5 separate regions of the Homo sapiens genome follow, and all the other regions are reported to be linked to region 1. Evidence: microRNA targets listed by miRTarBase, many of them from high-throughput screens and not tested one by one. Region 1 holds a microRNA gene; each other region holds the end of a gene's coding sequence. Distances are from middle to middle.

Evidence for each region. The annotated mature microRNA hsa-miR-4756-5p reads CAGGGAGGCGCUCACUCUCUGCU and lies in region 1 at 3,372-3,394, shown strand. An mRNA with a match to its seed (bases 2 to 7 or 8) in the 3' UTR can be bound and repressed. Matches are read on the target gene's strand: a 7mer-m8 pairs with bases 2 to 8, a 7mer-A1 pairs with bases 2 to 7 and ends in A, and an 8mer does both.
Region 2: miRTarBase lists TMPRSS5 as a target of hsa-miR-4756-5p. Seed matches in the 3' UTR shown: 7mer-m8 at 1,880-1,886 and 8mer at 1,968-1,975.
Region 3: the mRNA of REXO2 is a reported target of hsa-miR-4756-5p. The part of its 3' UTR that is shown has no 7-base or 8-base seed match.
Region 4: the mRNA of LRRC59 is a reported target of hsa-miR-4756-5p. Seed matches in the 3' UTR shown: 7mer-m8 at 4,357-4,363 and 7mer-A1 at 3,835-3,841.
Region 5: the mRNA of RALY is a reported target of hsa-miR-4756-5p. Seed matches in the 3' UTR shown: 7mer-m8 at 2,059-2,065.

Annotation. Positions count from the first base shown.
Region 1 is chr20:54,065,673-54,071,845 of GRCh38, reverse strand. MIR4756 (microRNA 4756) reads left to right here and starts at 3,361; the gene lies at 3,361-3,438. BCAS1 (brain enriched myelin associated protein 1) reads left to right here and starts at 1,252. Exons shown (of 13, transcript NM_001366298.2): 1 at 1,252-1,413. RefSeq lists an enhancer at 1,659-2,533.
Region 2 is chr11:113,683,611-113,689,783 of GRCh38, reverse strand. It overlaps TMPRSS5 (transmembrane serine protease 5), which reads left to right. Exons shown (of 13, transcript NM_030770.4): 12 at 1-19; 13 at 1,510-2,234. The coding sequence ends at 1,524. It overlaps LOC107984390 (a long non-coding RNA gene), which reads left to right and starts at 3,274. Exons shown (of 3, transcript XR_001748391.2): 1 at 3,274-6,173. RefSeq lists an enhancer at 1-444.
Region 3 is chr11:114,448,913-114,455,085 of GRCh38, reverse strand. It overlaps REXO2 (RNA exonuclease 2), which reads right to left. Exons shown (of 7, transcript NM_015523.4): 7 at 4,807-5,240. The coding sequence ends at 5,111. It also overlaps the pseudogene LOC100422382. Among named protein-coding and RNA genes, the nearest start is that of REXO2, 13 kb to the right of the region's middle.
Region 4 is chr17:50,378,242-50,384,325 of GRCh38, forward strand. It overlaps LRRC59 (leucine rich repeat containing 59), which reads right to left. Exons shown (of 7, transcript NM_018509.4): 7 at 2,997-4,994. The coding sequence ends at 4,747. It overlaps EME1 (essential meiotic structure-specific endonuclease 1), which reads left to right. Exons shown (of 9, transcript NM_152463.4): 4 at 354-440; 5 at 533-654; 6 at 866-983; 7 at 1,211-1,326; 8 at 2,071-2,260; 9 at 2,522-3,242. The coding sequence ends at 2,698. Among named protein-coding and RNA genes, the nearest start is that of EME1, 8.1 kb to the left of the region's middle.
Region 5 is chr20:34,078,048-34,084,047 of GRCh38, forward strand. It overlaps RALY (RALY heterogeneous nuclear ribonucleoprotein), which reads left to right. Exons shown (of 10, transcript NM_016732.3): 9 at 458-506; 10 at 1,863-6,000. The coding sequence ends at 502. Among named protein-coding and RNA genes, the nearest start is that of EIF2S2, 31 kb to the right of the region's middle.

The DNA.
Region 1 (6,173 bases):
GCTCCTGAGCCTCCAGGCTTGGGTCAGCACAGAGCGTGTGCATGGCAGCTGCTTAATAATTGGGTTTACTACATTCCAGATTGACATGTACAGTGCTGAGCTGGAATCGACTTTACAACCCTAATTACGGTGTGCCTGGTTGTGTATTCAGCATTTATTTAAATAGTATTTTTTTTCTTAAATGTTGATTTCTGAAAGAGGCCTTCCCCAGCTCTCTCTATTTCTCTCCCTTAGCTGCCTTGGCTTTTCTTTTATAATGAGAATCACACCCTGTAATTCTATGTTTATATTTACAGGATTCTATGTCCAATGACACTGAGTGCAAGAAGGGTAGAGACCCAGCATCTTTTACTCACCTCTTTAAACTCTGGCTTATATATATAGCCTGGTGCTTGACAAGTATTCATGATAGGGGTTAAGCTGAGTATACTGTTGAATAAAACCACAATAATTATTGGTCGCAATTCTCTTGAATGTCTTCTCCAGAGCACTAAGTAGTGTAACTTATCAAGTTTCCTTTCTTGCATTGGCTGTTAGGAAGCTCAAAGCCATATCTGCAAACCCTTCATAGCAAGTCTGTAAATCAACAAGAGCATTTATTTTTGATCCTGTTCTCATTTGATGTTCCAAATTTTGTTCTTCAATCTTCTTTTGTTACATGTTATTTCATGCTCTCATAATCTATTGTATATGTCCTTGTAAGACACTTTAAACAACATCCTTGCTTGAATTAAATAAATTGCATAGCCTGTCGAATTTCTGGCCTGCAAAGAAAAAGAATGCCCTTTCCAACATCATGGTATGTCTCCAGAGCAATAAACCACCCTCAGGTTACCTGATTTCTGGTGTCCAAACCCCTTTGGGAATAAGGTTTACATGACTAGGGGTAGTTGAGTGGATGAGAAGCTATTTCCTTCCAATTAGGTGGTTAGGTGGTGGTGGAGGTGGTGTTCTGAAGTCAGCAGACAGAACTACAAAATCTCACAGAACGTGTTTTCCCTGCTCTGACCATGACCTACGGTTACTGGGGAAGGAAACTGCTTCCCCAGGTCAACCCGGCAGCCTCAGTAGGTGAGGGGCACTGGGTAGAATACTTGGGGTGCCAGGGAGGCATTAATGCGAGAGGAGTCAGGTGCTCAGTTTTTATTGGAGTTGGGAGGGCAGCCCCACATCAGGAAGAGAACCTGTTTCTGCAGGATGGTCCGGGGAGAAGGGAGGACTCCACCCAGGCTTGTGTTTGCCCTGCTCTGTGTATTCAGCCAGCAGGCTCTGCACAAGGAAGCAAAGTGCAGGGAGCCAGGCTCCACCGACAGCCAGGCACTGGGCAGCACGCACTGGAGACCCAGGACCCTGTGCAGGAGCAGCTCCGGGTGACACGAGGGGACTGAAGATACTCCCACAGGGGCTCAGCAGGTAACTGCTTTCAGATCCTTTAGGCATGGCTGGAGGGTTTGCTGTTTGTGGTAGACGGTGTCATATAGAGGCCAGGGGTCAGACAGGGTCAAGTTTGATCCCAGCTCTGCCTTCTGTTCACTGTGTGGCCTTGGATATGTGTAAGCCTCAGTTCCACTATCTGTGAAATGGACCCAAAGATAGCACTCATCTCAAAGTTTTTAGTTTTACAAGGAGCAAATGACAATGTGGTCAGTGTTAGGCGCATAGCCACATAAATAACTCCTATTTGGTGGAACTATTGAGGGTCATTTCAAGCACAGGACATGGGGAGAAGTCACTGGATGGAGGGATAGGCTGTGTGATTTGGGGATCCGTCAGGGCAAGAATGCCCCATAGCCGAGTGGAATCTGAGCCTTCACCTCAGGCATTGCCTAAAGAAGTGGGAGGACAAGAAAAAGGACTTGTGGAGTGCCTTTTGTGAATCTTATTTAACGCTCAAGACCACCCTATGAGGCAGCTGCTGATTCAAATCCTGGCTTCAGGACCCCTGCTGTTTACATCTCCCTCTGAACCAGTTTCCTGCCTGGAAGAGTCATTGCGATTAGAATGCGGGTGCGCTGCAGCCACACCGCCAGATGCCAGCCCCAGCTCCACCCTGGGCTGGCTGGGTGCCCTGGAGCAGGTTCCCTCAGCCCTCTGGGCCTCAGTTTCCTCATCTGTAAAGTGAACCTAATAACAGTACTGAGATCAAAGGGCTGAGAGGACTCTACTGCCCGTAAATACCTGTGCACTTAGTAACTCTTAGCTGTGGTTCTTGTTTTCGCTGTTACCATCGTCTCCATTTTACAACTAGGAACATGAAGCTGGGTGAAGAGGGAGCTGCATCTGGTTCCAGGTCTCATGGAAAGGATGCTGTGGAACTGGAGTCCAGTCGGGCCTGGGATGAGGGTGCAGCCAGTGAGACTCTCACCTTGGGCACGAAATGTAAGGGATGCCAAAAAACTCAGTCATGGAGATAAACGGTATGTTAACACAACATTTTTAAAAGTCAGAATTAATGGCAAGACACCCGTGATGAACAAACTATGAACATGTTACAGAAAGATAAGATCAGGAACAGCGGTAATTTTGATTTTCACAAATTTCATGTTAAAATACTATTCATCTCCATGGCTGAGCTTTTTGGTGTCCCTTACATTGTTCCCCCGGAGTCCAGGGCCTGATCCGCCTCAGCCTCCTGGGGATCCTGAGCTGATCACAGCAGCTTCAGGCCCTGGGTGTATATACTCAGGGTATGTAGAGGGTGCTTCCTCCTAAATAAAGACAACAGACGGGGCGGGGCATGCTAAAGTAGTTTCTCATTTAAGTGAGGGTGGGGGAACAAACCAATGTCCCAAATCACAGAAGATTCTTTTTTTCCAAAGAGTTCTGGAACCCAGAAGGGTTTTGTTTTTAGGAAAAAGGCATGAGCTTTGGGAAAAGCAATGGGCCCGTTAAAGCCCATGGATTCTGCCTGCTTTACCATGACAAGAGATGTGGAGGGAGAGGAATTGAAAAAGGCTTTGGGTTGGGGGCGGGGGTACCTTTGCACCTTGCAGGCTCATCTGTCCTGCTGGAGTATTAGATGTGACTTGATTGTCTCTGTGTCTGCAGCTTCTCTTCAAGCCAAGTGCCCTGCCCTGAAGCAGTTCAGGATTTGAGTGCCTGAGTCACGTGGACCCAGGTTCAAACCCCAGGTGTGCCTCCCCGTAGCTTTCTGACTGCTACTCTTGGGCAAGTAGGACTAGTAAGGTGCCTACCCTCATGGAGGTGACGTTCGTGAGATGAGGGGATGGCATTGCTCAGCCTTGGTTTCTTTATCTGTGCAATCAGGGAATAATGGGACTCTGCAAGGGAAAAGGAGACAATGTGTGTGAAGTGCCTGGCACCAGGGTCAGGGCAAGGGTGAAGCCAGTGAGCACCTGGGGGATAAAATGCAGGGAGGCGCTCACTCTCTGCTGCCGATTCTGCACCAGAGATGGTTGCCTTCCTATATTTTGTGTCCTGCTATGCTCACCCTGGTGCTGCCTGGCACATAGTAAGCCTCCAATTAAAATTACCTGCGATTATCATGCACTTAACAATGTTTGGTGCAATAATAAGACTATGAGAGCGAGCTCTAAGATTTTTAGGATTACCATCCGTTTGTGCAAACATAATTAAGTACTCCGAAAGCAAAACATCAATCACCAAGCAGCCCTAAAACATCCAAGGTGATTTTGATCAAGGCACCCCTGCCCCTGGACCCACAAAGTCCCATACCAGGAATCAGGGCTTGGGCAGTTCAGTGAGGACTGGATTTCAGTTCCCTGTGTCCCCTTGTACAGGAGGCAACCTGTAGCACTGTACCTGGCACTCCTGATAATAGCTGCCGTGTTCCTAGCACTGTGCGGGCACACACATGGAGCTGCAGGACTGTGGGGCAGGCAAAGCGGGGTTGTTCTTTCCTCCTGCAAGGTCTTTACTGATGTTGGGGGCAGAGGGCTGGTTCTGCTGGGTGTGCCAGCCTGGCCATGTTGGCGTCACCCTCAGCTGAGCAGTGAGGAGGGCCCCTGGGTTACCTACATTCCATTGCATTGATCGAAGGTGTTGCTTGTTTACTTGGTGACTAATTCTGTCACCATTCCACCCTTCAAAACCACCCCCCCTCCCATTCAACAGTCGTCTAGCTGCCTGCTGGTGATGAAGTTTCAGAAGTGCTTTCTCCAGGCCAGCTTGCATGGGGTTTGGCGTTTGGCCTGTTTCCAGGAGGAGGGCCTATTATTAATCTGTAACTACAAGGAGGCGACATGGACCATCAATCACTGTGTAAAAGAGGAGGGATTTGAGGGCAGCTTCCAGGAGGCCAATTCACTCATGGATCAGAACACAGAACTAACTCAATTATAACAATAATAAGATAAATGAATAATATTAGCAATAACTAACGTTTACTCACCTGAGTACTGCCAAGCCCTGGCGCTAAATCCTTACAGTGATTATCAGTGACCCTTCAATTGTTCAATCCTCACTTTATTTGATTTATTTATTTACTTATTGAGAGAGTTTCATTCTGTCGCTCAGGCTGGAGTGCAGCGGTGTGATCTCGGCTCACTGCAACCTCCGCTTCCTGGGTTCAAGCGATTCTCCTGCCTCAGCCTCCCAAGTAGCTGGGATTACAGGCATTGTGCCTCCACATCTGGCTAATTTTTGTATTTTTAGTAGAGACAGGGTTGCGCCATGTTGGCCAGGATGGTCTCAAACACCTGACCTCAAGTGATCCACCCACCTCAGCCTCCCAAACTGCTGGGATTACAGGCATGAGCCACAGCGCCCGGCCTAATCCTCACTTTAGATTGTACCATATATATTCCTTGCCTAGTTATAATTTTCTCATTGCAAGAATGAATATGCAGGAAATATTTTCTATTCCATGTTCTATTATATTACATATAAATATTTCATAAAACTATAACATCACTTATACAGCAGAAGAGACAGTAGAAAGTATGAAAATAGAAAAGTTAAAAGTCTAAACTCTGGACTTGAGTTTGCGAGGGTTAAGTCCTCATTCTCCCACTTACTAGAAGATGATCTGTATTAGTCAGCTTGGGCTGTGGTAACCAAAACACCACAGACTAGGTGGCTTAAACAACAGTCATTTTTGTTTTCTCATAGTTCTGGAGGCTGGAAGTCCAAGATCAAGGTTCTGGCCGATGCATTTCTGGTGAGACCACTCTTTCTGGCTAGCCAACAGCTGCCTTCTTGCTGTGTCCTCACACGGTTGAGAGAGAGACAGAGAGAGCTCTTTGGTGTCTCTTTTTATAATGACACTAATTCTATCAGATCAAGGTCCACCCTTCTGATTTCATTTAGCCTTGATTCCTTAGAGGCCACATTTCCAAATGCAGTCATATTGCACGTTAGGGCTTCAACACGAATCCAACACGAATTTTGGAAGGACACATTTCAATCCATAGCATGATCTTAAGTGAGGAGTTTAAGTTCCCTGGGCTCAGGTTCTGCATCTGTAAAATGGGGACAATAAAAATACCTGCCTCGGCCGGGCCCGGTGGCTCACGCCTGTAATCCCAGCACTTTGGGAGGCCAAGGCGGGCGGATCACGAGGTCAGGAGATCGAGACCATCCTGGCTAACACGGGGAAACCCCGTCTCTACCAAAAATACAAAAAATTAGCCGGGCGTGGTGGCAGGCGCCTGTAGTCCCAGCTACTCGGGAGACTGAGGCAGGAGAATGGTGTGAACCCGGGAGACGGAGCTTGCAGTGAGCCGAAATGGCGCCACTGCACTCCAGCCTGGGCGACAGAGCCAGACTTCGCCTCAAAAAAAAAAAAAGAAAAAAAATACCTGCCTCATCGGGTTCTGATAAGGAAGCTGTGAGTTAACACAGAGAAGCATTCAGAGCAATGGCTGGCATAAGGTAGGCGCTACAAAAATATTAGGTATTACTACTGCTAATGTATGGTCCATTTTATTTACTGCTTATACTAACAGCTTATCTCTATTCCTCAGCTGCTGTGCACCAGCCACCCAGTTATACAACACATGGGCCACACCCTTCTAATCTTCACAGGAGCTCCACGCAAGGAATCTATTATGGTCCTTCCCTCCACCCCTCACTTCTCAGACACGGAGCCAGGGCTTATGCATATGGCCAGGGTGAGCCAGAGGGGAGCCCAGGCAGAGGGCTTGCGCTATTTCACCACCACAGACGAATTTACTCACGTGCTTTTCAGAAAT
Region 2 (6,173 bases), not on the chromosome of region 1:
GATCCATGACACTGCTCAGGTGAGTGTGGGGGCAGGAGTAGGGCAGGGAGATTTCTAAAGGACCTGCCCTCGAATGCAAGGAACCTTACCCCTTAGGCCCGGGCCCTGCTGGGGACTGGGGAGGGTGCTAGGACATATTCCCCAGAGTGAGTGGAGGAAGAAGTGAAGCTTAAACATGGAATCCATTGGATTTCTATCAGTTTAAGGATGAACTGGGTAAGAGTATGCCTGAGTTTGTATCCCAGATCTACCATTTCCTGTGTCGACCTTTGGCAAATTTCTAACTTTGTTAAACCTTAATTTCCTGATAATAACCATGATGGCTACTTATATGCTATTGTTATATGCTATTAAATAAGACCCGTACAATGCCTAGCACAGTGCTAGGCTTAGAGTGAGTGATCTGCAGTGTTTTTTGTTTTTTTTTGAGATGGAGTTTTGCTCTTGTTGCCCAGGCAGGAGTACAATGGTGCAATCTCAGCTCACTGCAACCTCTATCTCCCGGGTTCAAGCGATTTTCCTGCCTCAGCCTCCCAAGTAGCTGGGATTACAGGCATGCACCACCACGCCTGGCTAATTTTTTGTATTTAGTAGAGATGGGTTTCACCATGTTGGTCAGGCTGGTCTTGAACTCCTGAGCTCAGGTGATCCACCAGCCTTGGCCTCCCAAAGTGCTGGGATTACAGGCATGCACCACTGTGCCCGGCCTATCGTGTTATTTATGTGTATATCTGTTACCATCATTCATCCCTGGTCTCTAAGGCAGTTACTAGTGGCCACATTCCCTGCACTGTGGAGAGAGCTCAGCATTTAGCAGTTCGGGTTCTGCACCTACGTAAATTGTGTGACTCCGGGCAAGCCACTCTCCTTCATCTGTTCAATGGGAAGGCCAAGTGAGATAATGTGTATAAAAACACATTACTGGTCGGGTGGGGTGGCTCACGCCTGTAATCCTAGCACTTTGGGCGGCCGAGGTGGGCGGATCACGAGGTCAGGAGTTCGAGACCAGCCTGACCAACATGGTGAAACCCTGTCTATACTAAAAATACAAAAGTTAGCTGGGCATGGTGGCACGCACCCAGCTACTTGGGAGGTTGAGGCAGGAGAATCGCTTAAACCTGGGAGGCGGAGGTTCCAGTGAGCTGAGATCGTGCCACTGCACTCCAGGCTGGGCGACAGAGCAGGACTCTGTCTCAAAAACAAAACAAAACAAAAACATTATTTACCTAAAGTATTTTACAAATTTAGGGCATGATCATGAAAAGCATCTTCCTCTAAGGTTGGGCAGGGGTGGGGGTTGGTAGATAATACATTCGGAGTTTACAGGGAATGTATGTATTGATCTTCTCAAAGAAATCTTACAAAAAATCTTGAGCAGCAGATATTTTTAGCCTCATTTGATAGAAGTGAAAATCAAGGCCCTGCATGGTTAAGTGATTTACTAAAATAAAAGTCGCTTGGCTAGTGTAGAGCCATGCTGTGAATCAGTTCCTTTCCCTTTTGGTCTAGGACTCCCTCCTCTGAGTCCTGCTGTTTCCTCCAGTCTCACTGCACACCACTGCCTCATGCTTCCTGGGGCCTCCAGCAGCTCCACTAATGGAGGAGAGGCAGTAGCCTCCGACACAGAACGCATGGACCTCCTACTACTGTGTGTGAGGAACAGTCACTACCCACTGGCCAGCCACCCAGCCAACAGGTCTCTCCTCTTGGGCCCTGATTTCAGAGTCCTCTTTCTCACTAGAGACTCAATGACAGAAGAGAGGCTGGGACTTGGTTGGGCATGCTGTGGTTGCTGAGGGATGAGGGGGAGGAGAGAGGTAGGAGCTGGAGATGAAGAGGCTGCTAGAAGCAGCAGGAAGCCTGCCCTTCTGCCCTCTCCCCTCCCTGCCCCTGTGTGAGTCTTTTGGGAGGGTGCTGGGAGGTGCCCCCCGTCCCACCTTTTTCCTGTGCTCTAGGTGGGCTAAGTGCCTCCCTAGAGGACTCCATGGCTGAGAGGCTCCTGGGCAGATGGGGTCAAGGCTGGGCCAGCCCAGATGAAGCCTATGGGAGTCAGGACCCTCTCCACTCTCCCTCTCCACTCCCCTTCCTGTTCTCACCTGGCTGTGGCTGGCCCTGTGTGGGGTGGGTACACTGGAAAACAAGAAGGTTGGAGTTGGTCTAGGACATTGGTTTTAAATGACAGTTCTGTGAACTGGTCCAAGGAGTTCTGTTATTAAAGTGATATATGGTCTTGGTCCAGTTTTCTCTGTCTCCTCTCTCTCACTCGCACAAAGACAGACAGACAGACAGACAGACACAAACACATATTACAGGGTAGAATTACAATTTTCCTTCTATCTTCTATACATATTGAAGCTTTGGTGCTGACTCCTGTTCATCTACTTGAGAATTTTGGTTTGTGCTTATTTGTTTTGCCCAGGCTGGAGTGCAGTGGCACCATCTCTGCTCACTGCAGCCTCGATGTTGTGGGCTCAGTGCCTGCCACCTCAACCTCTCTGGTAGCTGGGACTACAGGTGCATGCCACCACACACGGCTAATTCTTCTTTTGTATCTTTTGTAGAAATGGGGTTTGTTTAATTCTTTAAATTTGTTAAATCTATATGTTGGCTGGGCGCGGTGGCTCACCCCTGTAATCCCAGCACTTTGGGAGGCCGAGGCCGGCAGATCACGAGGTCAGGAGATCGAGACCATCCTGGCTAACACAGTGAAACCCCATCTGTACTAAAAATACAAAAAATTAGCCAGGCATGGTGGCGGGCGCCTTGTAGTCCCAGCTACTCGGGAGGCTGAGGCAGGAGAATGGCGTGAACCTGGGAGGCAGAGATGGCAGTGAGCCGAGCCGCACTCCAGCCTGGGTGACAGAGTGAGACTCTGTCTCAAAAAAAAAAAAAAAAAAATCTACATGTCATGATCTGCAATGAAAAGCCTTAGCCATCCAGGTGCTCTGAGATCTTGAGTCTGAGAAGCACTTAAGTCAATGCTCTCTTGGGAAGGTCTGGTTTCCCTGCAAGGCCCATCTCTCCTTCTCTCTCCCCTTTTTTTTTTTTTTTTTTTTTTTTTGAGACGAAGTCTTGCTCTGTCACTCAGGCCGGAGTGCAGTGGTGCCATCTTGGCTCACTGCAACCTCTGCCTCCCGGGTTCAGGCAATTCTCCTGCCTCAGCCTCCCGAGCAGCGGGGATTACAGGCATACTGCAGCCACCATGCCTGGTTAATTTTTTGTATTTTTAGTACAGACGGGATTTCACCACGTTGGCCAGGCTGGTCTCGAACTCCTGACCTCAGGTGATCCATCTGCCTCGCCCTCCCAAAGTGCTGGTATTACAGGTGTGAGCCACCGCACCTGGACCCATCTCTCCTTCTTAGCTCTTGTTTTGGAACTGGGCCTTTGACTTGGCCTCTCTTTTTGAGTTTTATGCCCAGTTAGCATTTCCTTGGGTAAGCCTCTCCCCAACTCTCTCCTCTCTAGCAGTTAAAATGTGACTGGCATCTTCTTTCTAAAAACTGCAGTGAATTTTTTATGGTGCTTACCCAAGGAAATGCAACTAGTGTTTAGCAATAACAGAACTTTGTGAGTTTATCAGCATATTTTTTGAGGAGTTGTACAAATGATTACTCATTTCTAGAGGGTCTGCTCCCTTTACATGAAGTGCACTAGAAAATGAAGGTTTCAATTTACTGCCAGTTTATTAACCAGGGAAGTAGTTGCTGGGAGTCTGCTGTCAAACTGTAGAAGCAACGTGGGAGAAGTTCTGCTGAATGGCAAAATAGCCTCGCCCTGTGTCCCTGGAGGTCAGACCTTCAGCCTCTACCCTGGGATCAACATTTACTGCCCAGCTCCCTTAAGTCCCTGCCTCAGGAGGCACTGATGGGGTAGTAGATCCCCCTGGGCAGGGATAAGTTAACAGCAAATCCAGCAGCTGTGATCTTTTTTGTGTTTCTGATGTCAATCATAATCATTTGCATATTTAAAGGGAAGTTTAAAAAAATTACAGCCATCAAGGTCTTTCAATACTCAGTAACATTTGAATAGTGTTTTACAGTTTAGAAAACATGCCCATATGTGGGAGCTCACAAATCTATGTGGTGCAGATGTTATTATTATTGTCCTCATTTTCCAGATAAGAAAATTAATTCAGAGAGATTAAGTGACTCCCCCAAGACCACCCAGCTGGTAAGCACTAGAGCCAGGATGTCAACCGTGGGTCTTTTTACTCTAAATCCACATTACTGTCATGCACATGAATGAATGAGATGGTCCAGTATTGCACAGAAGAATAGAATTGGAAGGTACTTGCTCAGGTCACCTGGTGTAAGTCACCTGCTTATAGTAATGCCTTGGCACACCTACCTTTTTTTTTTTTTTTTTGAGACAATCTTACTCTGTCACCCAGGCTAGAGTGCAGTGGCATGATCTTGGTTCACTGCAATTTCTGCCTCCCAGGTTCAAGCGATTCTCATGCCTCAGCCTCCTGAGTGGCTGGGACTACAGGTGTGCACCACCAAGCCTGGCTAATTTTTTTTGTACTTTTTTTTTTAGTAGAGATGGGGTTTCGCCATGTTGGCCAGGCTGGTCTTGAATTCCTGGCCTCAAGCGATCCACCTGCCTTGGTCTCCCAAAGTGCTGGGATTACAGCCGTGAGCCACCACACCCGGCCTCCCACACCTACTTTTTTATAGATGAAGGAACCAAAACCCAGGAATTTAAGAGGCTCCTGCCAAAGACCCTTCTCAACAATATTCTTAGAAATTTTCAGTTCTCCCTGAGATTCACGGTCTTGACTAAAACTTACAAATGAATATCTCCTATAGGAGAGCTATAAAGGGTACCCTAATTAGAGAATTTGCTAATAAAGATTCCTTGCTTACCTATACAGAAGTTCTTGTTCTCTTTGGCCAGGCTACCAGTCAGATCTGCAGATGCAGAATCTCTCACTTTCCTTATTAGCATCTGCCAGTCCAGCTCTTTGGAAAGGGAAGGGAAGCGAGTGGCCTGGCCAGCTCCGTTCCCCTGAGCCTGCTCCTGGAATGAAGGGGTGGAGGTGGGGCCAGGAAGGTTGGGAAGATTCGGGTTCAGAAGGGCCTTAATGAGGACCAGCTGGGTTCCCAGCTATCTTAAGCTCTGTAGGGAATTCGGAGGTAGAAAAGCCGACTGTCTTATTGGAGAAATGAGACTTATTTGCAATAAATTACTAGTAGCCAGCCAGGCAGAGAGCTGAGTGGGGAGGTAGTAATTGCTCAGGGAGTTCCAAGAGCCTGTTGTTACAGAAGTCAGAGTAATTCTGTATGTGGGAAACCTCTGCCTTCCTCCGGTAGGATTCAGCATCCCACCTGCTTGGGCAGAGCTTTCGAGCCTCCTGAGATGTTCCAAGAGGGTCATTCCTGGCTGCCATGATGGGTGCAGATCCCTTCCCTCTTCTTCTGTGTGCTTGTGGGGTCTCAAGGATGCTAGAGGGTTCAGCATCCCTCTAGCATCAGATTCAGGTTCTCCCCTCCTGACACCTTCTGTGGAGTCGTGCTTTTCCTAAAAGGGTTTCTGGGAACAAGGGGCGGCCCTGCCATTCCTCAGGAACATTTCTCAGGCTCTTTCTTATATTTTCTTTTTGGAGGTGCTTGGCTCACCCACAATAGGACAAAACTGGAAATGCTATAAATGCTTAGAACTGGTTTGGTAGCTGTCAGATGTTTTCCCAAGTCCCTCTGATGCTTCTTCTCTCCTCTCTACTCTGCCGTCTCCTGGCCATGCTCTCAGGACCCTCTTGCTGCTCCACAGCTACTCAAAGGAAAACCTACCTTCACCTGCCCCCACTTTCCAGTCCAGCATCCTGGGCCTGAGCCCCATCTATACCTCCCTAGCAGACATGCTGCAGTGAACACTCAGGGTGTGCCGCACCCTCAGGACTCTGTTTCCTACTAAACTAATCAGAGCCAGGTGTTGTTAATGACTTTTTCAACTGTGTGTTAAATCCCTCCACCTCTAGGCAGGTTCGTAAGGAAGTAGGTAGGCAGCAGCTTCCTACTCCTGAGGGCTGAGGCTGGTCTCTCTCATACATTCAAGGCTGGGAAAGAGAGAGGCCAAGCAGGCCTGCCTGCTCGGAGTCTCCCCAGGGTGGAGCACTCCAGGGGGATCTGTGGAGGCTTTCACCTGGAGGTGGTGCTGGAGGGAACCAAGCT
Region 3 (6,173 bases), not on the chromosome of region 1:
GTTCTAAAATGTTCACAATGCTATAATTTGTTACTTAATTTTATGTGAATTTTTTAAAAAAATATCTCCATGCGTATGTTGTTGACTTTTTTTTTTTTTTTTTTTTTTTTGAGATGGAGTCTTGCTCTGTCACCAGGCTGGAGTGCAGTGGCTCCATCTTGGCCCACTGCAACCTCCACCTCCCAGGTTCAAGTGATTCTCCTGCCTCAGTCTCCCGAGTAGCTGGGACTACAGGCCTGCACCACCACGTCCAGCTAATTTTTTGTATTTTTAGTACAGACGGGGTTTCACCGTGTTGGCCAGGATGGTCTCAATCTCTTGACCTCGTGATCCTCCTGTCTTGGCCTCCCAAAGTGCTGAGATTACAGGCGTGAGCCACCACGCCTAGCCTTGTTGACATTTCTTTAACTCACAAATACCTTGACATGCTGTCTAGAGAAACTGCTCCTATATACTGATTAATTATGGAGGATTCAAGCAATTCTGAGTTTTTATAGCATCCTCAAACTGAAAAACCTTCAAAATTAGCCATTTTTTCTTAATTATTTATGTATTTAAGAAATAGAGACAAGCTCTTGCTATGTGGCCCAGGTTGGTCTAAAACTCCTGGCCTCAAGCAGTCCTCCCGCCTCAGCCTCTCACAGTGCTGGAATTACAGGCATGAGCCACTGTGCCCAGCTAAAACAAGCCAATTTAATGCCCTTAAACAATCAAAATGTAATGCTAAGGAAAATAAAACAATACACGCCAGAACTGGAGTGCAAAAGCAAAAACCTTTTTGCTATAGATTTGTAAACTAATGGGATCCTTTCCCAAGGGCATGCTAGAAATATAAAAAATGAAATGACAAAAACTTCCCATGTTTCTATCCTTCGTTAGGCAACTTCTTATCCTATTTCAGTTTCCTGAAACATCCCTGGTTAAGACTCTTGTGATTAAAAAGACAAAAACAAGTGTTTATGTAAGTCCATCAGATTCCTCATTAAAGCTGAAGTCACACACCAGATACCAGTGGTCTGAAAGATGGTAGCCAGTTGGATCCAATCTGTTCTTTGGTGAGCAGATCAAGAGCTGACCTTACATTTAGAGCATGCTTAGAATACCAGAGGGTGTGCCTGCCCTCCCCTGGGGTCCAGATCTTCCTGGTAGTATATGGGGGTTCTGACTGCCCACCAGCACTCAGGGGATTGTAGGCACTGTTCAGGTTGAGGCTGGAGGAAGCAAAGTGTTTCTAGGCCTCTTGTGTTGGTTCTGCATTGAAGTCCCCTCAAACAACAAGGGGAATCTTGGCCCTTGAGTGACATTTTGCAGGTTCTGAAGAAGGTCACAGCCTTGAGCTGATCAAAATCACGCCCAGCCAGTGCGTGCTTTTACATGGGTGACACCGATGCAGAACTGTTGGTCTGACTCCTTGCACTCTAGGAACTGTGCAATGGCCACCTGATTAGTTTTCAATGTCATGGCCATCAGCCTAATATTGGCACTGTTCACTAGCCTGATTTGGTTTTGGAGGAAAAATTAAGCACAGCTGTCTGGTCCACTGTTGTATTCTATACCTAGACAAGATGACCAGGGCTTGGGGGAAAAAAAATGTGCCTTGATAGCCCAGCCTCCTGAGGAGTGGTTGGAAGGTTTCAAAATACTGTTCTACCTCTTGGAGGCACAATATATCAGGCTGGTAGAATAGGATTTCTTCTAGCGTGAGAAGCTTCCTTTCTTCTCACTTGAGTGTTTCAACAGGGCATTGTACAAAGTTGTCTTTGTCTTTCCAAGAGCTTGGATGAAGTTGTTCCATTGCATGACTCTAATAGGTAGGTAGTTACTGGAGTCTGTCCTCAGATCCACAAAATCTCTCTGGAACCAGGGAAGTTAAGTATCCACGACAGCCCTGCATTCCTCAAAAAGCTGCTCTTTAGGATCTATGGGCTCCAGATGTTCTAGGTCAGGTAATAGCAAACACTCTGGGTGCAGGAGGCAGCAGCACTGCTGTTCAGTGTCTTGGCGAGAGCGCTAGAGTCTGCTCATACTATTTCAATCGTACTTCGACTACCCATACAACCGTTCTGCTTTTCACCTTCTCTACAGTATTAAGTTACATGGTATATTCAACACTTTATTATAAAATAGGCTTTCTGTTAAGATGACTTTGCCCAACTATAGGCTAATGTAAGTGATCTGAGTACATTTAAGGTAGGCTAGGCTAACATGTTTGGTAGGCTAAATTTATTAAATGCATTTTTTACTTAATAGTTTCAACTTACAATGGGTTTGTTGGGATGTAACCCCACTGTAAGTCAAAATGCATCTGTACTGATTCATTCACCTTGAGTTTAATAGGGGGAAATACACCTGGACGATCCTAAGAACATAGCTTGCAGGACAATTACTGCACCGAACGAACCAGCAAATGAGAGGCCCCCCAAGAGCACTAGAATGGCAAGCTCTACTAAGCAAATATACTGATCATTTTTCAAGCTGTAGTTCTATTTAAACCAATTTGCACTGCAGTTCATTTCACAGAAATTACTTCATAGCTTCAGGAATCCCCTGTGAAATCCTAAATACCAGCACTACAAATTTAAATTTAACTTAAAAATACTTAAAAATAATGAACTAATCACTGAACCAGCATGTCTTCATATATACCTGCACTAGACTGGTTTTGCTTAACTCACAGGCTACCAGTTATTTTATTAAAATTCAACACAAGCTCCACTAAAGGACAATAGAATTAGCTACACAATTAAGATACAGAAGACAGCATTAAAGCAGTAACACCAGGAGTTAAAAATTTTTAAACTGGCTTGAACAGTTAAACAGGTGAATAAACCAGCCAGTTGTGTGGAAGAAACCTTGAGGCATTCATTAATAGCAGTATCTGGTTCCTACGAACCCTTCTTAAGCCCAGTGTTTTCTTATCTATCATCACATTAGAATTTAACATTCCTGAAAGCCAAGTAAGGGCAAAGACCCTTTTGCCAAATTTAGTTGGAAACACTAAACCAAGTCAAGGTCACACTATTAGTGAAGTTTACTACAGTCCTCAGCACAATGTAGGCAGTCATAGGCATTAAGTGAACGCTGATTTAAGATAATGCCTCCAGCCTCATAACTAATCATAGTACCCTTTATTATCAATATTCATTAGCTATCATTACACGATGCTCACTGTGCTGAGCTCAGAACTGTATGAATAGCATTTAAATTAATTCTAACAATTCATTAAGTAACGTTATTAACCTCATTTTACAGATATGGAAACTGAGACTTAGAAAAGCAACTTGCCAAAGTCACTCAGTATGTCAGGGGCCTGAACTTGAATTAAGAGTTTGATTCAAGAGCCCTGTTCTTAACTACAGTTGAACCTTGAACAACACGGGGGTTAGGGGTGTCAAACCCTTGTGCAACCAAAAATCTGTATATAATTTTTGACTCCCGCAAAACTTAACTACTAATAGCCTACTACTGACCAGAAGCCTTACTGATAATATAAAGTCAATTAACATAGATTTTGTATGTTATATGTAAGAGATAATATATTTTTTATACAAACATCAGGAACAATATATATGTTATATTCTTACAATAAAGTAAGCTCTCAGAAAAGAAAGTTAAGAAAATCTTAAGGGAGAGAAAATAAATTTACTGTTCATTAAGTGGAAGTGGATCATCATAAAGGTTTTCATCCTCATGATCTTTACATTAGTGGACTGAGAAGGAGAAAGGGGAGGGGTTGGTCTTGCTGTCCCCGGAGTGGCAGAAGCAGAAGAAAATCTGCATGTAAGTAGACCTCTGCAGTTCAAACCTGTGTTGTCCAACGGTCAACTGTACTACCCAATCCTGCCTTCCAAGCCACTGAAGTTGGTGCATAAGCTAAAACCCATGCCATTCCAGAAAGAAGTGGTCAAAAAGATCAGCAGACTTATGTTTTCATAAATTCATTCTTAGTAGACTCATGAATTTCAGTCTTAATTCACTCATTTGGAAAAAGTTACACTACAATCCCTCTCTCCACTGATACAGCTGTAGTGTAGGTAACACAACTTAGTACATGTTAAAATGTTACTCAAATGAAAATATTATGGGGTTATTCTGATCTACTAGCTAGTGATCTATCTGTAACTATCACACATCAGGATCACGCTACTATGTTCATATCTGTAATATGAAATGTAATTTGACATCACCACAGAAGTCTTCTCACCTAGTGGTTCTCAAGGAAAGGAAAGTAACCTGTGGGCCTTTCCCAATTCTGATTTGTCTTCAAGGGGAATTTGTCAGAATGAGGTGCACAAAGCAATGAGATGTGTTCTACAGATGATTCTATTGCACACTCTGGCTAGGAAATCACCTTAGTACTGTGGTCTAGAATACGTAAACTTAGGAATTAGTATGTTCGAATTGAAATCCTTTCTCAGCTACTTACTGACCATTAGAACTAGGGCAGCAAGCTATTTACATTCTGTAAACCAAGCAGTCACTGCTGTGCATATAAATAAGCCCTAATTATTACTTGCAATAAACCTTAGTTACAGAATCCGTCTGAATTGAATTTCCTGAATGTAGCAGAGTAGCCTAGTCCAGTGCTGTTAATTCAATAACTCTAACAACGAGCCCAAATCTGCTTCTTTAAACTTATCTGCGGTTATTCTAAAGCAAAACATATTCACTTCCTGTTTGACATGAACTTATTAACCGATTCCTAATTGCATTACAAGAGTTTAAACATTAGCCATATCACTTAAAAAAGAAAAAGCCATCTTTTCCCAATAATTAAACTACTAAAGAATAGATGGTACAAAAAGGTTTGCATTTCAATAGAACTAGCTTTATTTACTTATTTATTTATTTAAACAAAAGAAATGGTTTAAAAGCAAATGCATATATGTACCAAGGGATGGACATGACCTGGTACTTACAAAGGAGCTGCTGTGTCATAATGGAAACAGCATATTAGGAGAAAAATAGTATTTCGTGTGCTGTCTGCTTGAGTAATCAATCTGGAGATGCAAGTTAACCGAAGGTGCTCTGCCAAGCCATCAGCGTGAGAAAAAAAAACCACCAGAAGTTGCCTCCAGATAACGATGTAGTGGCAGCATGATAACTGGCATCAACTCACGGTCTTCTCATTTTCCCCATTTTCTATAATTTTCCTCTTCTTTTCATCTATTTTTTTCTTGAAGATGTTATTTCGGTAAAACTGAAGCTCTTTGATGCTTTCACTAATGTCATCAAGTGCCCTATAAGCAAACATACCACAATGAATGAACTGTCCAAAACCAGGAGATGAAAATCATTTTAAAAGTACAACTTTTAAAAAACGACTTAAGAACAATGGATGTTACTGTAAGTGTCACTGTCTAGCATCATCAAAAGTAGAACATTTCAGAAAAGCAATTTTCTTTAAATGCTTTGTTTTTTAAAAACTTTTGACAAAAAAATTTGTAAAATATAGAAGATTAAAGTTTCCCAAATTGTTCCAAAAGATGGCGACATGTTCCACAGGGAGAAAAAATAATTCCACGGTCAAATAAGTTTAGAAAAACTAGAGTAAACTTTTTACTGAAATAAAAAGTTGCAAAGCATTTAATATACTAATGTGTATTATGAATTCCCAAAAGGAAGCTGTCCTATATTTCTAATTTATTAATTTTCTAAAATTAATAAATTTTAGTATTTCTAAAACTTAATCGACCACATTTGTAGAATACTTATAAACAGTTCATGGAACACAGTTTGAGAAACATTGCCCAATACTTGATGATGTCCCTCAACAAAACAGACTGACACACTTGAACATAAGTCATGACTCAGTCATCATAATAAACATCAATTATCAAACAGTACCTAACCATACCAGAGGATCTACCTCCTCTCTCATGGTGATTTGTGCTATAATCAGTGGCAGCCTGCCTCCATCTAAGAGCCTTTCTTTTCTTCCAATATGTTGTTTCTCATCTGTTGTATTCTGAGAAATCAGGTAACCAAGATTATTAGAACAGTGTGCAAGTAAATCAATAAACTCTGAATCATGGGCCAAGGGCCACTTCTAGAGAATTCCCTGCACAAATTTTAGTGCAAGAGTTTTATGACAATTATTTGTGTGGCTAAGGCAACCATCTGCTTTCTTTCCAGGACTTGGATATATGTCAGAGCCGAAGCTGCCAAAATTA
Region 4 (6,084 bases), not on the chromosome of region 1:
TTTTTAATAGAGATGGGGTTTTACCGTGTTGGCCAGGATGGGCTTGATCTCCGACCTCGTGATCTGCCCACCTCGGCCTCCCAAAGTGCTGGGATTACAGGCGTGAGTCACCGCGCCCGGCTGCTATGTTCCTTTCTTATTCACTGTCTCTGAGATGCAGGGCACCAAGACTGAATCATTGAGGGCTGGGAGGGACAGCGACACTGTTTCTTGCCACAGTGACTTCATTCCAGAAAGGATAATGCATAAGGGGTGGGAGTTAGTTCATTCACCCAGAAGACCTGGGCCACTCTCACAGGTGCTCAATACCTGCTGACCTCCCTCCCTGTGCTGTGTTCTGGGTACTTTGGCAGGACAGAGAGGACTGGGTGGAGGAGCCAACAGTACTGGTGTTGCTCCGGGCAGAGGCATTTGTGTCCATGATCGACAATGGAAAGCAGGTGGGCAGAGCCAGAGGGTGGGAGGACACGGAACAGAGGGCTGACTCTTACTAGGAAGCAAGTATTAATGCAGTTTCTGCCCCTTCATGCAGGGAAGCCTGGACAGCACTATGAAAGGGAAGGAAACGCTTCAGGGCTTTGTAACTGACATCACAGCAAAGACAGCAGGGAAAGCTCTGTCACTGGTGATTGTGGATCAGGAGAAATGCTTCAGGTTTGGATTTGCCCTGGTGATTTCATGTTAAAAGGGGCAGCTCTTGGGCCAAGGGGGGTGAGTTTAGTTTATTCATTGCAGATGTAGGTCACTCTGCAAGGTAGTCCATCTCTAACAAGTCCAGGGGGATGCTCTGGTCCAGTCTTCTTCTGTATCTTCTGCCTGACTTCAGCCTGGAGCTGCTGTTCTTTGATTTCCTCCCCTGCACCAGTGCTCAGAATCCTCCAAGAAGAGGGAAACAGGGAGCAAATAAACAGACCAAGAAGCAGCAGCAGAGACAACCAGAGGCCAGCATAGGGTCCATGGTATCCAGGGTAGACGCTGAAGAGGTAAGAACGTCCTGTTGCCTGAATCGGGCTGGGTACTCACTGGTCACCTGAGACTTGCTATTGATAGAGAATAAAATGCCTGCTGCGTACTGTTTTCTGCCTTGGCACTGACTAAGAGAAGGTACCAAACAGGAAGCCAAGGGGCTGGGGTGTGGCTTTAGTGGACAGTGACTTGGCAGCTAGTCTCTTCCTACCCTTCCAGTCCATCGTTGCTTTTGGGTTTCTAGGCATTGGTGGATCTGCAGCTACACACAGAAGCCCAGGCTCAAATTGTGCAGAGCTGGAAAGAGCTGGCCGACTTCACATGCGCATTCACAAAGGCTGTGGCTGAGGCGCCCTTCAAGTGAGTAACCCCAGCAAGTCCAGCCTCCATGCTGGGCCTGTCCTTTACCATGGCTCTTGCAGTCAAAGCAAATGTCCCTTTCCCCTCATCTCTGCAGTCAGCCCATTGTCTCTCAAGCTTGAGGCAGAAGGAGCTGACCTCACACTGGGGATTCTTGGGAAGAGTCCTCAAGCCTAGCGCCTTTTCAAATATTCTCCTTTCGCCTATATGTAAGTATGTGTTCTGCAGGCTGATATCATAGGCCAGGTTACCATAGGCCAAGTTACCAGGATTAATTACAGGTCAGATCACAATGTAATAAGCACTAGGAAAGCAAATTTTTGGCCTACTCAGTTCAAGAAGTGTTCACTGTCAGAATTTAAAATAAGTAAATGACCTCAGAGACAATCCAGTCCAAGTCCCTTATTTTATACTTGAGGGGACTGAGGCCTGAAGAGATTGACTTGTCTAAGCTCCTAGCAGTTAGAAGAACCAGAAATAGATTGCAGATTGCCAGATATCCAAAGAATCTGGTATCTTTTCTTCTACTATAATGGACTAGATGTAGTTTTTAAATGAATCAGCAACTGGCCCTATACCTGGCAACAAAGTGAGCACTCAAATTGTCAAAGGCACAAAAAGGCCAGATGTAACATGGCGCCCACCTCTTCCAAGGTCAGTGGGGGGGTTTTCAGTTGCCACTTGAGGGGAACAGGTGTAGAAGAGTAATGAGCAACTTACAGCTCTCCAACCACGCTGTTGCAGGAAGCTCCGAGATGAAACTACCTTCTCCTTCTGTCTGGAGAGTGACTGGGCTGGAGGGGTGAAGGTGGACCTTGCTGGCAGGGGACTCGCACTAGTCTGGAGGAGACAGATTCAGCAGCTGAACCGAGTCAGCCTGGAAATGGCCAGTGCAGTTGTGAATGCCTATCCCTCCCCACAGCTCCTGGTACAGGTATGCTGCTCCAGGGCTCAGGGGTCACTGCCCATTGCCTGCGGGCTCAGTGGGCCCCCAGATTTCCATGGACAACTGTTGAGGGCCCACAAAGGCCTCACAGGTCAGCAGTGCAGGTCTACTAAGATCAGTGTTGCTAATGCTGACCCAGGGAGGGAGGACAGGTTCTCATGCCCCAAGCCAAGCGTAGCACCCTCCATGCTCATGGAGAAGGGATCACCATGGATGGTACCATATTAAGAGGTCATCTACCACTTCCAGGCTTATCAGCAGTGTTTTTCGGATAAAGAACGCCAGAATTTGCTCGCAGACATACAGGTGCGCCGTGGGGAAGGTGTGACATCCACTTCTCGCCGCATTGGACCAGAACTATCCAGGCGTATCTACCTTCAGATGACCACTTTACAGCCACATCTCTCTTTAGATAGTGCTGACTGATTCTAGCCCTCAGGGATGAGGATGAAAAGCTGGAAACTTCCACTTCCCCAACCTCAGAGCCTGACTGTAATGAAGAGACTGGCAGCACCTCCTGGAACACAAGCCTAGGTGAGGCCCAGTCTTTCTTGGGTCTTATTATTTGTGAAGGTCTCTCTGCCTGTCGGCTGGGGCAGAGACTGAAATACTGCCACCTACCTTTGGCATTTAATGTTCCTCTCCTGGCAAAAATTCACTGCCACAGACAAACCACCCCCACTCCTACCCAGCCAGCCCTCAAAACACAAAGGAACAAAGACAGTCCACTCAGACACTTATTTAATAACTGTAGAAATCCAAAAGAATTAGCATCAAATCTTGAAGTCGTGAGTGAAGCTGCGGGTTGGCTTGACTGGGCTCAGCCACTGAGCTGCCTCAACCGGCCAAGGAACGGGATTATGATGACTATGCGGACTTCTATATTGTCTTCATCTCATTGTGTGTATTATGTATTTAGTTTCAATAAAGCATTTGTACCAATGGCTCTGGAGCTTGGAGGAAGACTAAAGGAATGTGTAGTGATTCTGAGTAAGATGTAGACCTACGCAGCAGAGCTATGGGGGAGAAGATTAACAAAGTCCTTTCTTCCAATATCAGGATAGTCATGAGTTGCAGTCCCATCCAAAAGGTCATTAGGGCTAAAAGGCCCTCTGTGTCTCTGAACTATGAGATTCTTGCTCCCTCCGGGGGAGCCAAGGAGCTTGCAACTGGGAGTTTGCAGTGAATGAGCACCATGACACAGTCATTTCTGATCCCTCTATCCAGCTGTTGTGAAAAGATGAAGCAAAGGAGGCAAGAAAATGCTTAATTTAGCAGACAAGAGAATGGACAGTGTGATCCTTGTTTGTGCTAGCCATTGGGTGATGCACCACTTTTCAGCTCCATGATGCTACTTGTTTCCCTTCATATCCTGTTTCCATTTATGCCCTTCAGTTATGGTCTAGAATCAAACAATTCTAAACCTCAGTGTCTTATGAAGCTGACACTTCAAAACCTGCAGAAGCAGGTTGCCTTTGAGGTATTTAGTCACACCAAGTACAACTAGAGCTGTCATAGACAGTGTAGGTTTGCAGAGATCCACCTCCTTGCTTACTGGCAATTAGGGAGTTAATGCTCTAAAATTAGGCAAGGAGCCTGGACTGTTGCCATTTTATGGAAGCCACATAAGTTGGGCAGGACTCCACAGGAGCTGCCCGTGACCTGATGATAGCAAGAGATTTCTATCTCTGAGTCGTGAAATCTGTCTACCATGAAAGAGTCTATGCTTCACCTGAGGAATAATCGATTCTGGTGTGAGTTCTGGTCTCTCAGGACATTATAAAGGAGGGAAAATGATGTAAAGGGAAGAAAGAATACCAGAGTGGGAATCCAGTTTTGCCTCAAACTAGCTGGGAGACTAGGCAAGTCATGGAAGACCTCAGTTTCTCTGTCTGCAAGTGTTATATTGGACTGGATGGTCATGAAGTCCCTTTCATAGCCAGAGATTTTGTGTGGCTGCTAAAATGCTTACATCTCTGAGGTCCTAAAGAAAACAGGAATACCCCTACCTCCCAGTTTAGACTGGATTTACTGAGCGTGGTGTTCTAGTCCCCCCCAGTTCCTCCTGATCTACCCTGATTCCCAGGGAGGAATGAAAGGGTTTGTGGCATACAAAAGTATAAATGTAGTGACAGCTGACCATTTAGTAGAAACGAGCCTTGCCTTTACACAGCTTTATATAACAACTAGAAAAGGCTATGTTTTCTCTCTCCCCACCCCCAAGCCTACTCCTTTAGGCATGCAGGTAACTGCCCCCCACGCCCCCCCGCCACCTCCCATTTCTCCTCATTCCTTCAGGGAACCCTGACTAAGGAATGAAGAAGTCCTACAAAGAGGAGGTCTCATGTACCAATCTGCAGCCATTTGATGATGGCAGGTAGGTCTGATGCTAAAAAGAGGTTGTGTCCAGCAGAACCCAATTCCATAGGAATCCAAACTCCAAGGCTGGGAGGCAGCAGGTGCTGGGGACAAGCTCACTGCTGAGAGTCGGTCTGGAGGACCCACTGGAGGATCTCATGGCGGCGTAGACCCTGGACCGCATTGTCATAGATGGTGTTCACGCTGGTGCAGAGGGGCTGCTGCTGCAGCTCTGTCACCCGACAAGCAACCAGCCCTCCCGCCACACCAAATAGCAGCAGCAGCAGCAGCAGCTTCAGCACAGCCCAGGAACGAGTGTGCTTCCGGGGTGGTGGCTTGCGGGGACGGGAGCCAGACTTAGATTCTGGAGGAAAAGTAACAGTAGACAAAGCAAGTTCAGTCAGAGGAGACCTGCTCTATACTAATCTCTGCTAGTCTCCTCCGTGCAGATCTACCTACATTCCTTCCTCAAGCAAAAACTCCCCAGGCCCTGAAGAGAAAAAATGTCTCCACAGACCGAAACAGAAACAACTTTTCCCTTGGATCTGAAGGGGGTAGATTTGCAACTGGCACTCATTCTGCGTGTCTCATGTAGCTCACAGCCCTCAGGGTCCTAAGTTCTCCTTGGTAACATGGTGATCCACGCCTCTTGGGATCGCAGAGGGAGAGGCTTATCAGGAAGCATCCAGCGCTGACAGAGTACTGTCCACTTGGGGAAACACGGTCAGGATTTATCATTATTGTCATTATTATGATATAATGTGTATATAAAAAGAAAGCCCAAAAGGTAATACACCATATTGTAAGCAGTGATGATTGCTAGGAATGGGGGAGTACAGGTGGTTGCCATTTTCTGATATATGTATCTAGATAGATAGGTATCTTTTCTCAATTCTTTGCAATGAACATATGTTACATTTTTAATTAGAAAAAAATTGGTTTTGAGATTTTTAGACAAAATTTTTAAAAACTTGACTGATCATCCACAATGCCAGGAACTGCATGATCCTGCTTCCTCATTTAATCCTTATCACTACCCTGTATGATCTTCATTTTCAACAAGGAAATTAAAAACCAGTGAGATCAGGAAGGTGGAGGCCTGTGGCCCTGTCCTGGTCAAGACAAGGGTGAGTAGGGGCAGGGCCACAGGCCTCCACTCTCTGTACAGAGCTCCTTCCCTCACCTGCCTCTCCCTCAGGAGTCCCTTTTCACCCAGAGGGTATCTGATCCTCTGCAGCATGTGGAGCCACGTCACTAACGAAATTCAACCATAGTCAGGTAAAACACAAAAATGTGTTTTCTATACAATGTGGCTCCCTGAATGCAGGCCAAATGACTCCTCTAGTGTTCAAGCAGTGAGGGGTCTCACTGTTGCCCAGGCTGGTCGTAAATGATCCTCCTGCTTCAGCCTCCCAAGTAGCTGGGACCACAGGTGTGTGCCACTACACTTGGCT
Region 5 (6,000 bases), 20 Mb from region 1:
AACAGATGGGCTCATGGCCATGACGGTTAGGAGGTCTGCCTTATGCTAGCTCATCTCTCCTTTGAGCGTAGCCTGATCCTTCATCTTATTTTCTCAGGCATAGCAGTGTCCATAAAGGCCCTAACAAAGACTTGGATGCCCCCAGAGATGGGGAGCTCACCAGTCTATAAGGCTTTCAGCCTTCTCCAGTGCAGGCTCTCTGCACAGAAATGGGGCTCCTGCCACTCCCAGAACACCCTTCACTGGCCTGTGTGGGGTCCTCAGACCACCCTTCCAAGTTCCCAAGCCAGCTTTGTTGGCTGGTCCCATAGTCATTCCCCTTGGCTGTTCCTGCGTCTTCTGACTGTGTCCTCTAGATGCCCTCTGGACCATGAAGTTTTTCTGGACAAATGGCTCAGGGCAGGACTCAGAGCTGGCAATGAGTGATGTGTGGTCTCTCTTACCTCCTCCCTATCAGGAACACAGCCAGGACACAGACGCGGATGATGGGGCCTTGCAGTAAGCAGGTACAGGGGTCCTGTCCTGATGGGCAGAGGGTGGGGAATCAGTGAAGTGGAGGTTGTGCCTTTTCCCTGGATTGGGCAGGAAGTGTCACGAAGCATACCTGGCCAAGTAGCACTGACTATACCCAAGAATGAAGTCCCCTCCATATCTAGCCATCCCGTCACACCCCTTCATGCTTGGGGCTTGCCATGCTGAGGAAGCAGGTGCCGTAGATGGGCCAGGCGGGCCCACCTAGCAAGGGTTCCTTCCCTCAGCACACTCAGCCATGTTGCCTGTCTCTGCCCTTGAGGAGCTCCTAGTCTGGTAGAGGAAGACATAAGCCATTACCACCTAGTGTGAGCAGGATAACAATAGAGCGAGGCCAGGTCATGGAAGAGATGATGTGTAGCTGAGCCTGCTAGTGATTGAGGGAGCAATGTTCCACACCAGGGGAATGGCCTTAGCCATACAGAGCTGTGACAGTCCTTGGTATGTGGTGAGGCCAAGAGCCTCCTGTGGCTGCAGTGCCCCCCTAGTTGGTAGAGGACTCTGCTTATTGTCAGAGGGTGATGATTGTGAAGGGCCGTATGTGTCAGGCTTAGGGGCTGGGATTTGATTCTTTCATGGGGAGGAAATGCCCTGTGTGACAGGAGCTGCACCTGCTTTCTCTGAGTTCATCTTCAATCCCACAAGCTGATGATTGTACCAATATAATAGATGTGGAAACAGACACTAAAGGGTGCAGGGAGATAAGGTAGTAGTTGGTGGAGCCTGGATTTCAGCCCAGTGGTGTGTGGCTTCAAAGCCCACTCTCTGGCCACTGTTTACCATCTACTCTGCCCTACCTTAAAGGAAAGCCAGGCCACACCTGGCTGTGCCTACTACTCTCTGACCCATTCCCTTGGGGTGGCTTGGGTGGAGGAAGGTCTCAAACACTAGTGTTTCCAGGGAGGTGTCTGGATAGATGACACATTTATGCTGTAGTAAGATATCCCACCAGCAAAGGCTTCCAGAAGAGCTTTAGAAAATTGTACATATGCAGTCTTCTTTTGGAACTTCTTGGTTTGTTTTGCCTGGGATGCAAACAAACCTCCATATCCAGCCATCCTGCTACACCCCTTTGTGCCTGGTGCTTTCCAAAGCTTGTTAAAATAGTTCACAGGTGAGTTATATGGGCTCAGGTGAGGAAATGGAGGTTCAGAGAGCGGGTGAGACTTGCCCAAGGTTACATGGCCAGGAAATTATGAGGCCACAGCCAGAGTGCAAGAATCTCTCTGTCTCCAGACATCATTCCACCCTTTCTTCCCTACCCCTTTTATCAGCAACAGGGTCTCTTCCTCTCAGCCTTAGTCTCTTCTTTCTCTCTCTCTCTTTCTCAGCCTGACAGGAGCAATGGCCACCAGCAGGTGAAGGGCATCGCTGCCCCAGGCCTCAAGCCGGGCACCCAACCCTGGATGCCACCCCCCAGCGGGTACCAGAGGAAAGCTGGCAGCAGGCGCCTCCTCCCCCAACGCATCCCAGCCAGTGCCATGTCCTCTGCAGGTGGAGTTACTGGCCTACTCCTTCCCCATGAGCCCTCCCTGTCTGCACTGCCCAGGCCAGAGGGTAGAGCACAGGGGTTTCCCCATACTACCTCCCCTCCCCAGGACACTCCCAGGCTTGGGTTTTTTCTATAGGTTTGGCGGGGGGCCACAGGGAGGGGACCCTGACAATAAAGAGATTGGATCCCAACCTGTTCTGAGATGGGATGGTTTGTGTTTTCTCATGAAGATATCCCGGCCCCTCTGCCAACCAAAAAGCTGGTCTAGGGTGCCTAATACTGATCCATCTGGACCTTAGTGTCCTCAGTGGTGATTAAAATGGCCAGTGGGGCCACTGGGGAGGGTTGGATATGCTGGCCCATGAGCATCTTGCTGGCTGAAGTGTCAAGCAGTTGTGACCCACTTGGTTTACCCCATAGTAGGTCAAGACCTTATCTCTTTCCCCAGCTTCTAAGTCTGGTCTTTCCCAGCTCTTAAAAGGATTCTAGAGTCTGCCAGTCTCTACCTTCTCTCTTCTGGCTTAGGACACTATAATTTTTTCATTTGGACGTTGTCCTCCCACCAGCCTCCCAGTCTTCTGCCTCTGCCCTGTACCATCTCCCAGCAGCCACGCAGTCTTTCTGAAACGTATCCCTTCCCTGCCTAAAATCCCTTTACTGACTCTTCATCATCAGGACAAAACCCTACCTCCTGAATGTAGGGTGTAAGATCCTGCTTACTCCAGCCTCTCCTGTTTCTTGTCACCACCCCTTTCCTGCCCCTGACACAAACCCTACATCTCAGTCTCACAAAACACACAAGTTCTTCACACTCCGGGCAGGTTTGGTAGCAAGGAATAGAGCGTACTCCAGTGACAGCAATCAGTAGGAAGTTTGCATCCGGAGACACGCAGCCTGTCTGCCCCTGTCTTGGGCCACCCGTCTAGACATTTGTTCTCTAACAATCAGCCGGGTTCCTTCAAACGTGTGCTGCTTATACATGCTCATTGTGTACTGCTAATGTCACCTACTTCCCCCTTCATTCCCCACAATGAATGGATCCATTTTCCCCATGTTCAAGTTCCCAAGAGAGAATCGACTGCCACTGTAATTTTTTTTCCTAATCACTCATAGGTTACAAGTACCTACCCTGGTCCAGTGAACTGCGGGATTCATATGTGGCCACTTAGGCTGGTCTCGTTGGTATGGAGCTGTGGGAGGGCAGCACCCAGAAATAGGCTTTGTTCCAGGCCTGGCACGTACTCCTCCTGCTCCTACTTTCTCTACCTGGGAAATAGCCGCTCAGGACGAAGCTGCTGCTGTGGTGTCGCCACCTCTGAGAAGTCTCCCAGACCCTCCGACTGCTCTTTAATTGCCTGTTCTCTCCTCTGGAAGCCTTCCCCCAACACAGAAAAATTCAATCCCATCATCAAAAAGGGCTTTAGGTTTTCCCTCCATCTTTACGTGTTGATCAAAGTTTGCAGATCTGCTGGAATCCTTATTGAAAACTCCCCATTTCAAACCAACCCGGTCTACAGCCTCCAGGGAAGCTTCCTCCTGGGCTTTGGCTCCATGTTTTGGTAGAGGGTGGAGGCTTTGGGCAGTGCTCAAACTCCACCGGGAAGTCTCTCTCACTGAGCAGCCCTCCTGCCTGTCATCCTGGGCAGGCGAGCACTCTGAGGCCCCAGTGTAGCTCTGTGCTTTGATATTCCCAAGCTCTGCTGGGGCCTGACTAGGCCAGCCCCAAGGTGGCCAGAGTTCTGGCTTCATACCTGAGCCAAAAGCCCCAATCCATGCTTGGCCATTGCCTGAGTATTAGCTGCCCCAGGGGGATCACGGTCCCCATATATTTGCTTGCCATGGACCCTGGGCAGCAGGGAGAGAGTAGAGATTTGTCAAGAGCCCATGGTGGAGGCTGAGGCCCTGAGGCCATGAGATGCAGGCATGGGGTGAGAAACAGGCCCCTTGGAATTGGGCTGGGCCTTGGCCCAGCTTAGTCAAATCAAAAGGCTTCTATTTGGAGAGCTGAAGAGGGTGTACAGAGGAAGGGGCTAGGTCTGCAAGGAGTGCCTCATCTCCCTGAAGAGCTCTCAGTGGAACATACTTCACCCATCCATGTACCCACATCTTTCCTTGCCCAGAAGGCGAGAGCCAGCTATAACAGACCCATTTCAATACCCTGGCAAGTCATTACTGCCCTTAGCTCTTGGTGTCCCCATCTGTGAAACATGGGGGACAGCTGCTAGCCTGGATTGGAACTTGGGCAAAGTCCAAAGAATGGGATTTAGAGCTGAATGAACCTCACACTGAGGGCACAATAGCACTAGGCACTGCCCCCAGAGCCTAGTGCTATATGCCTGCTGCAGGTCCTACCCAAGCATGCTTTACTGAGGAACTCAACGTTTCAGAGCTTGAGGGTCAGGTTGATCATGGGCTTGTGACCATAGGCTTCCTTAGTATGCCAGGCTTGGAGAACCGTGAGAAAAGCAGGGAAGATACCTTCAAGGGTAGCAGGCATCAGCTCTACTCACCTTGGCCCATAAGGCTTTGCCTGGTCATGCTGGCACCGGGTCATATGCTGGACAGGGAGAACGAGAGTCCCATCCTGGAACTCCAGAAAAGCCCCTGGATGCTCCAGCCCCTGGGAAAGCACACAGCCAGGCCCTTGGGTGGGAGGTTGGCTTCTAACAGTGCATACACATGCCCTTCCTCTGAGTCGGGGCAGCAAAAACATCCATTCCGCTGCGCAACAGTTGTCATTTTTCTAACATCTGAAAACTCCAGAAGGAGATGGTGATAAATGTGGTACCGGATTCTGCCTAAAGGATCAGTCTTTAGATGTTTTCAGATTGAAAGCCTCATTTGTGATCCTCACAGCCATCTTGAAAGAATAGAGCAGCCAGTGGGTATACTGGATTGTGAGCTAAGAGGCCTGGGACTTTCCCCCTGTTGCTGCCAGCCAGGTTGATGACCCTGGGCAAGTCTTTTTCCTTACCAGGTCTCAGTTTCCTCAGCTGTAAAATGAGAGGTTGATCTGGATCAGGGATAGTAAATGGGCCTTTGTTCAGTTACTGACTGTTGTATAACAAACCACCCCCAAATTTAGTAGCCTTAATAAACATTTATTAGCTCCTGAGTGAGTGGCTTGGCAGTTTGGGCTGTGTTCAGTGTGGTGGTTCTTATCTCATCTGGGCCCTCGTGTGGCTGAAGTGAGCTGGCAGATCAGCTGGGGACTGGCTGGTCTCAGATGGCCTCGCCCGCCTGTCAGGTGGTTGGCTGGGCAACTGGGCCACACGTTCCAGCATCTAGCAGGCTGACCCAGGATTCTAGACATCATGGCTGAGTTCCAAAAACCGCAAGAGAAGACAAGCCCAGTATGCGAGTGCTCTTGAGGATATTGCTATGACGTATCTTTTGGCCAAAGTAAGTCACATGGCTAAGCCCAAATTCTTCTTAACAGGAGGAGCTTCAAAATATGGCCATATTTAAAAAATCTACCTCAGGACTCATTTCACTTGCCAACTCAGAACTTTTAGTAGCAGCTGCCTGGAGTGCCTTTTGAGGATCTGCAGCAATTTTCAGACTGTTTGGAAATACTGACATGATAGTTTGGCAGTTTCTCTTATGAGCATGGAATTCAAGTGTGGGCACGTGAGCGTCAGGTATTTGCCATCCCTGGCCAGGTTGACCCGTAAGGTCATAACCTGCCCCATAGGATGTTATATGCAGTAGGCCTGTCTGACAAGACCACAGAAATAGAGAAGGCAAAGCAGAGCAAAAGATTCTGAGCCAGGCATCCTTGGTTTTCATCCCAACCAGATCATTGATTGATTGAGGTTTTAGGCAAATCAAAATCCCTCCACCAGTAGCCAGATTCTTCATAATAAACTTCCTCCATAACAGTAAACCATTTCCTGAACACCTGCTGTTAAAAAGCACATTTTACATTTACTTAATCTCCACAACCACCCTCAGTAGGTGTAGTAAGGACTTCTGGT